Linked DNA regions of Homo sapiens. The protein of the gene in region 1 interacts with the protein of each later gene in a pairwise test. Each region holds a gene or a part of one and is shown on either strand. Other genes may lie near its edges.

What was found.
Region 2: the proteins of ZNF239 (region 1) and WTAP interact in binary tests that used the Homo sapiens proteins (3 or more experiments, as listed by UniProt).

The regions. Positions count from the first base shown.
Region 1 is NC_000010.11:43,567,720-43,571,637, reverse strand, and holds part of ZNF239 (zinc finger protein 239), read left to right. Parts: exon of another isoform or gene 1-1,247; coding exon of another isoform or gene 1,248-1,464; intron 1,465-3,178; exon of another isoform or gene 3,179-3,616; coding exon of another isoform or gene 3,617-3,743; intron 3,744-3,918. UniProt on the Homo sapiens protein: May be involved in transcriptional regulation.
Region 2 is NC_000006.12:159,751,263-159,755,180, forward strand, and holds part of WTAP (pre-mRNA-splicing regulator WTAP), read left to right. Parts: intron 1-2,197; coding exon 2,198-2,352; intron 2,353-3,765; coding exon 3,766-3,918. UniProt on the Homo sapiens protein: Associated component of the WMM complex, a complex that mediates N6-methyladenosine (m6A) methylation of RNAs, a modification that plays a role in the efficiency of mRNA splicing and RNA processing.

The DNA.
Region 1 (3,918 bases):
GTAGTGAGCTGAGATCATGCCACTGCACTCCAGCCTGGGCAACAGAGTGAGACTCTGTTTCAAACAACAAAGATGAGTTGAGTGTAGCCCCTATCCTTCAGAATCTTCCAGCCAACTTGGGAGAGACTTAATAGCTATAGTAGAGGGATGTGAAAGATGCTATGAGATCTCAGAGGAGGAGAATTCTAACTCATCCTCATGCTTCAGAAAGAGGCTATTGTCCTGAGACTGAAAGCTCCAAAATGGATGGGAGAACTCAATAAGTTAGGGCTTACTATAGAAAGGACTGTGCTAGACTCAAGTGTAATGTGTTGAATGACTCCAGGTAATCTAGTGTGCCTCTTCCTGCTTTTCCACTTCAAAGTAAATTGTTAGATACAGCAGAGATGGGCTCTAGAAAGAAGTGGAAGGCCACATGATGGCATGTATGTAGTTCTGAGGAGGTCGACATTTGTCTGATAGAAACAGGAAACAATTGAACTTGTGACCTTCCTCTTTGGTTGGCCTTTAGAATATCAAGTCTGCTCTCCCAACTGTAAGCAGGAGCACAGCCTTGGAGTGACTCCTTAGTGCCACTGATACCTGGGAAGACTGTTGATTATTCAGTGTTTCAGTCCCACCTTTGTCTTGCTTTAACAGGAGCACTAATTTCCTTTCCTTTTCTCCTTTCCCTTGTCACAATGATTCTTTTCATTTGGTCTACTCCTGTCATTTTTTTTACCTACCACAAAGTTAGTAGTCCACCAACATATCCTTTCCCTTCTCAGAATGGAGTCCCGCCTGCCATTTTATCTTGAGGACCTTAAAAAATTAATAACTCTGGTTGTCTAACCTAGGGACTGGAAGATGACAAAAATTGTACTACAAAGAATTGGTAAGGAGTTATTGTAGCCTAGGTAAGAAAAAAAATAAGGGTCTTACTAAGACTGGCAGTGGAAATGGAAAAGAGGTAACACATTGGAGGGAAATTTAGGAGGCAGAATTGACAGGATCTGAAATGGTTTGAATATTGTTGAGGTAGAGAAGGAGGATTAGACAATCCAGACAACTGAATGGAAGACGGATAAAAAAATAAGGGAGAGAAAAGATAATTGGTGGGCTTGCATCTCTGAAGATAGAAGAAGGGATTTGATCTAGAATGCACAGGAAGAGATTAGCCTTAAACAGAAAGAAATTTTTTTTTCTCTGTGGTCTGAAGAGAAGGTCTGGTTGGGAAGAGCAGCCAGTCCACTTGCTTTTAATATGCCATGGGTCATGCCTTGCTAAAGGATGTGGTGATGGAGCTTGAAGGCAGCAACCTTTGCTTCTGTTTGTTTGTCCCACCTTTACTCCGGGGCTTGAGCCTCCTTTTCCAGCCCTCTTCCTCAGAATGGAGACCAGTGACCTTGAACAGAAAGCTTGGGAGACAGCACCCATCCTTACCTTCATCTTTACCCTCATCCTTCCCCACTGGTGACAAGTTGGGTAAGTCATGTCACTCCTGCAGGGCAGGCCCAAGGAAGGAGGGAGTGGTGCCTCTTTAGCCTCAGGCCAAAGCTGGCTTAGCTGATCAAATTTATGAGACAGCCTTTATGACTTTTTATATATTCTATCACTTTACTTTTGAAATTGTGCCTTAGAGAGTGGTGCCAGCCCATGCACTGTGCAGATATAAGTACTGAAATTGAGAGTTTCAAAAACAAAAAAAAACTGGTTCTTCACCACAGGTAGTTTAAGAAGCATTGCTTCATCAGACAGAGCCCTGAAGGGAACCAGATTTGCTGACATTGACTGAGTAAATATTTGGACTCCCTTTATGTGCCAGGCCCTGCTTGAGGTCTTGGGGATGCAGTCATGAACAAATGAGGCAGCCTCTCTATTCTTGGGGAATTTAAATCTCAGCAGGGAAAGACAGTAAATAAGAAAGCAAGTGAATAAGAAAATAAGGTAAGGCATAAGTTATAAGAAGAAATTAATTAAATTAAACCAGGAAAATGATATATACAGGATGCTCCAGTGGATTAGATGGTCAGTGACATGCTTTCTGAAGAGGCAACAGTTGGACTGAGAGCTGAATCATGAGGAATGGAGAGGGCAGCTAGTGCAGAAGCTACAATGAGTTTGATGCAGTTCAAGGGCCTGCTGGGTCACTGGTGCTGAATATGATCATAAGAGAGGCCTAGGTTGGGGAGGTGACAGGAGAGCCTCATGGGCCAGGATGAAGAGTCTGGATTTTACTGGATGGCCACTGAAAAGCCTTTGGAGGGTTTCATGCTTGGCCTTGTTTTTGTTTTAAAAGATCACCTTGGCTGTCATGTGGAAAACTCATGTTTGGGGGAGCAGGAGTAGAGTCAGACCAACCAGGAGGTTGATGTGGGTGAGAGCAAGTGCTGCCTAGGCCTAGAGAGGTGACAGTGCAGGGCAGGGGAGCTGGGTGGATGCCGATATGCTTTAGCGGTAAAGGAGGTGGGTGATAGGTGAGATGTGAGGATGAGAATGAAATGACATCGGGGATTTTGGTTTGAGCAATTGAGTGGTTCGTGTGGCTGTTTACTAAAATGGGGATGACTGGGGAAGAGCAGATGCTGATGGATATTGCTGGAGCAGGAGTTCTGTTGGGGCCTGTTAAGTGTTTTGTTTTGTTTTTTGTTTGTTTGTTCAACTCACTGCAACCTCCGCCTCCCGGGTTCAAGAGATCCTTCCACCTCAGCCTCCTGAGTAGCTGGGACTACAGGCACACATCACCACGCCTGGCTAATTTTTGTATTTTCAGTAGAGACGAGGTTTCACCATGTTGGCCAGGCTGGTCTCGAACTCCTGACCTCAAGTGATCCGCCCACCTCGGCCTCCCCAAATGCTGGGATTACAGCCGTGAGCCATCGTGCCCAGCTAGGGCCTGTTAAGTTTTAAGCACTTTAGACGTCCCAGTGTAGATGTTAAAAGGTAGAAAGGTGGAGTCTGGAGGTGAGGTAAGAGGTTAGGGCTGGAAATAAATATTTGGCAGTGAATGGTATTTTAAGTCAAGGGATCCCTCAGGAGAGTGTTTTATGGCTGTGTGTATATGTGCTATTTTATTTTCCCAGTAATGTTCAACTACTTAGTTTAGAAGAGGAAGAACAGAAAGCATAGGAAGTGATTTTTAACTTGTAGGATATTAGAGAGATTCATATTTTAAGAGTAGAGGGGTCCAGGTAGTGGACTAGTCCCGATTATGGTTATTACAGTTTGATGAAATGTGGCTGAGATCATTGGCACTGTGGAGATTAAGAAATGTGAGGTCAGAGTGTTGGGTAAATTGTTCCTGCGAGTGTTAAGGTTGTCAGGATAATGGTGGGAATGGGGTGAAGATGACAACTCAGCAATGACACAAGAAGAGAGTGACACAGAAAGATTCAGTAGCTGAGAACTTGAGCGTAGATATGTTGTGGGCAGGAGGGAAATGATTTGGATGGAAGTAGCCAAGTAAGTGAGAAAGGAAAGACTTTCCAACAAAACTTGGCTTAGCTCACTCAGATCCCTGAGCTGCAAACTTCTTCTATACCTTTCTTACCTTTTCCAGTGCTGCTGACTTCACCCCACTTGCAGGGCATTTGTGCAGATGGTTGTTTGTTGAGGAGGAATGTGCTTAATGTTTTAGGAACCAGTTACATTCAAGGATGCCTCTGTGGCCTTCACCGAGGAGGAGTGAGGTCACCTGGACTCTGCTCCCAGGAAGCTGTGCGGAGCTGTGATGCTGGGCAACTACAGAAACTTGGTCTTGGTGGGTAAGGACATGTGAACTTGGACACCTGCCCATTGGCTTCTTTGTTTCCTACTTCCTTTTTGACACAAAAGGATGTTTTCTGACTATTCTAAGCAGCTAAAGAACTTGGTAAAAATTGGAGAATGGTAGTTTTACTGGGTTGTCTCAAAAACCATACCTTTTCCATCCTTTATAAG
Region 2 (3,918 bases), on another chromosome or scaffold:
TTAAACGAAACCTTTTTTGCATTAGAATTTGTGACATTTTTATATGGGGTTAAGTCAGGTCACAGATTAATGTATCTTACAGTTGTCTTTTTCTACTCTTTAAAATTCATATAGTAAGAAGGTTAGTTGTAAACACCAATGAAATATATATACTTTGCAAGAAGACAGTTTTGAGAGCATAGGCAGTAAAGTGGAAGGAATTCCATTGTTTTTGACAATCTTGCATATCTCTCATTTTCCCATTGTTTAATTTCTAAGTGGATGTTCAGTGGAGGCTAACGCCTGAGAGTGCTGATGGGAAATGGTGGAAATCTGGAGCTACAGTAGCAGTGAACAAGAACACCAGCTAATAAAGTTATCATATCAAAGAATAAAGCCTTTACCACATGCTCACTGGTGGCTTTCACCCTCGGGCTCCTCTGAGCAGTAGTAACCCAGGTTGAACTCTTCAGGTATTTTCTGGAAGAAAGCTTAATTACAAACTTTTCCTTGAATTACATTAGGTTAGAAAACATGCAGCCAGGCACGGTGGCTCATGCCTGTAATCCCAACACTTTGGAAGGCTGAGGTAGGCAGATCACTTGAGCTTAGGAGTTTGAGACCAGCCTGGGCAACAAGGCGAAACCCCATCTCTACTAAAAATCCAAAATTAGCTGGGGGTGCTCGTGCACACCTATAGTCCCCAGGTACTCCGGAGGCTGAGGTGGGAGGATCACCTGAGCCTGGGGACGTCAAGGCTCCAGTGAGCTGAGATCACGCCACTGCACTCCAGCCTGGCAACACAGTGAGACCCCCATCTCAAAAAAAAAAAAAAAATGCTGTAGGTGAAAGAACCATGCAACACTTCAAAGATTGATAAAATATTTACAAAATGCTCTCATTTTTAAACTTATAAGGCATACTGAAGTAGTGTATCAGGCAAGTGAAAGCCTCACTAGAAGAAGGAAAGACTAGAATTTAAAAAATGTTTTAACCCATAAGGTCATCCTGGACTTACCCCAAGGACAAGAATGTCACACTGTCTTTATCCAAGTCTCAAAGGTAAATATCACAATTATTTACTTAGATCCCTTTAAAAGTGATCATTTCTTTTTTTTTCTTTTTTCATAAATAATTACAAGAACAAGCAAATAATTTCTCCTTTTATTGCTGAGGCTAAAGAAAAGCAGTAAAATTTTATTGGGAAACATTTGAGCTTTTCATTACATATTTGCAATTGCTATGTATGTGCACATAGGTTCAGTAGTATGTTGCACTAGCATTTGGAAACTATAATCTGTGGAAAGTGTGACACTCCTAGATTGGCAGATATTTGCGTGTTTGAATTGTGATACGTGACCACTGGTCTTATTTTTGTGTCAAAAGGATGATCTTTTCCAATAAAGTCTTAAGTCTTTAAAAAAAAAACCTTAACTGCTGAATGTGCCTCAATTAATATAATAGATAATATTCTTGAGAGTTATGGAAGATGGATGTACCAGAAAACTTCCCTCTCTCCTCCTCTTTTTTGAGACAGGGTCCCTGTTTCCGAAGCTGGAATGCAGTGGCATGGTCACAGCGTCAACCACTTGGGCTTAAGCAGTCCTCTCACCTCAGCCTTTCCAGAGGCTGGCACTACAAGCATGTGTGCCTGGCTACTTTTTAAAAAATTTTTTGTAGAGTTGGAGTCTATGTTGCCCATGCTGGAGGACTTCCTGTTAAGGAAAATCCTTATTAAATGTTTTTCTAGCAAGAATAAATACTCTCATTCATTTTTATTTGTAGGTACTGATTTTCATAAATATTTGTGATTGATGTTGCATGTACCTTTTCAAGAACTTTTCTGATAAAGCGCTAGATTCCTTAGTGTAATAATACTGGTATAGCCAAGGTGTGTGTTAATTAACTGGCTCTGTTTCCATTTCAAATGATAATTTGAGATGAAAATAGATGGATTTCAGAATTGATTATTGATGTAATAGAAACAAGGTGTAGCTGTTTGGGCACTTTTTGTTTAGGGTTTATTTTTACTGCTGTGTTGGCAAAATACTGAAATGCAGAAGATGGATGTGTCCCAGAAAAGAAGATGGTAATTATGGGGAAGCATCTGCTGTGATATAGTTATGTTTGTATGTGTTACATCTATCACTGTAATAATTGTAAGCAAAGACAGAGAGTTTTGTCTTCATTTTGTGATGGATGGCTCTTTCCTTTGCAGCCAAACAGGGAAAAAGTTAATGGCGAAGTGTCGAATGCTTATCCAGGAGAATCAAGAGCTTGGAAGGCAGCTGTCCCAGGGACGTATTGCACAACTTGAAGCAGAGTTGGCTTTACAGAAGAAATACAGTGAGGAGCTTAAAAGCAGTCAGGATGGTAAGGGGTTTGTTTCTTTTTGGAACGTTGTCTCAACTTTGCATTGGCTTTTTAAAACTGCCAGTCATGAATATTATAGGTTAGATTCTGTACATTGTTAACCTCTGCCCTATGATTGTATATTATTGTGAGTGAAGCATTTTTAGTTGAGTCCGCAAACAAAGCCATATAATTTTAGTTTGTTTATCCCCACCCTCCTAATTCTTTATTGTTCAAAATTTCTTACATTTTTGTTTTTAGTTGGGGGTAGGATTTGGTAAAAGATAAAAGGGTGTTGTATTACTTAACAAGATGGACAAATTTGTATTCATTGTTTGAAAGGGAGAATAAGCATTTCTCGTTAAGTGTAAATCTTAGAAACATGGGCAGTTTTCAGCGATCTGAAAGTAATAAAGTTGATTGTATCTGTGAAGGTTTTATTAGTGAATAAGAGATTTAATCTTTAAATTTGCTGAGATAAAACTTGTCAGCCTCCATCCTTTTTAGTGCAAGTGTAGCTGTATCTCTGTTTCTCTTCTTTGTAAGGTGCATTATTAATAAGGAAAATATCCAAATTCTTTGAAATTTTAAATTGAAAATTAGTGTCTCTGGTTAATTGCAAAGATGATCAGTAGCCAAGTAATTTCTTCTGAACTACCTACCTTTTCAAAATCTTCAGGAATTATTTCCTGTGACTTTTGTCCTTTTATATGTAACAGTCCTTGGTTGAGAACATGGGCCTCTTTGGAGTGTTATAGAGGACCACACTATCCTTAAGGATCAGACTTGCTATGGAACTAAGGCACTGGATCAGGAATAAGGGGATTGGCCATAGTGGGCCCATAGGTAAACGTGAGTCAAACTTTGGGGCTGTAATCAGGCATATGGCAAGATGGATCAAAACAATTTTAACTTGGTTGCTTAATACAGTTGCCCTCGGTATCCATGGTGGATTGGTGTCAGGACCTCCCACAGTAAGCCCCTCATATAAAATGATGTCATATTTACATATAAACCTATGTACATCTTCCCCTTTGAGCCATCTCTAGATTAACAGTACCTAATACAATATAAATGCTAGGAAAATAGTTATTTTACTGTATTGTTTGGGGGATAATGACAAGAAAAAAAATCTGTACATGTTCAGTATAGACCCAGTTTTTTCTTCCTTGAATATTTTCCTTCTACAGTTGCTTGAATTCATTGTTGCATGTGGAGGGCCAACTGTATATTATTTTAAGTATCTGACTTCCCCCAAAACAAACTCAGTCATATTTTAAGATTCCAAGCAAAATTTTTAAATGTAGTGTGATTTTAGAATTGTATTTGTTTACTTGAGCGTTTATTGACTCCCTTGCTTTGTGGCAGGCACTAAAGAAACATTTTTCAATGTTATAAACGATATTAAAGTTGGTCTGACTCTCCTTTGCACAGAACTGAATGACTTCATCATCCAGCTTGATGAAGAAGTAGAGGGTATGCAGAGTACCATTCTAGTTCTGCAGCAGCAGCTGAAGGAGACACGCCAGCAGTTGGCTCAGTACCAGCAGCAGCAGTCTCAGGCCTCTGCCCCAAGTACCAGCAGGA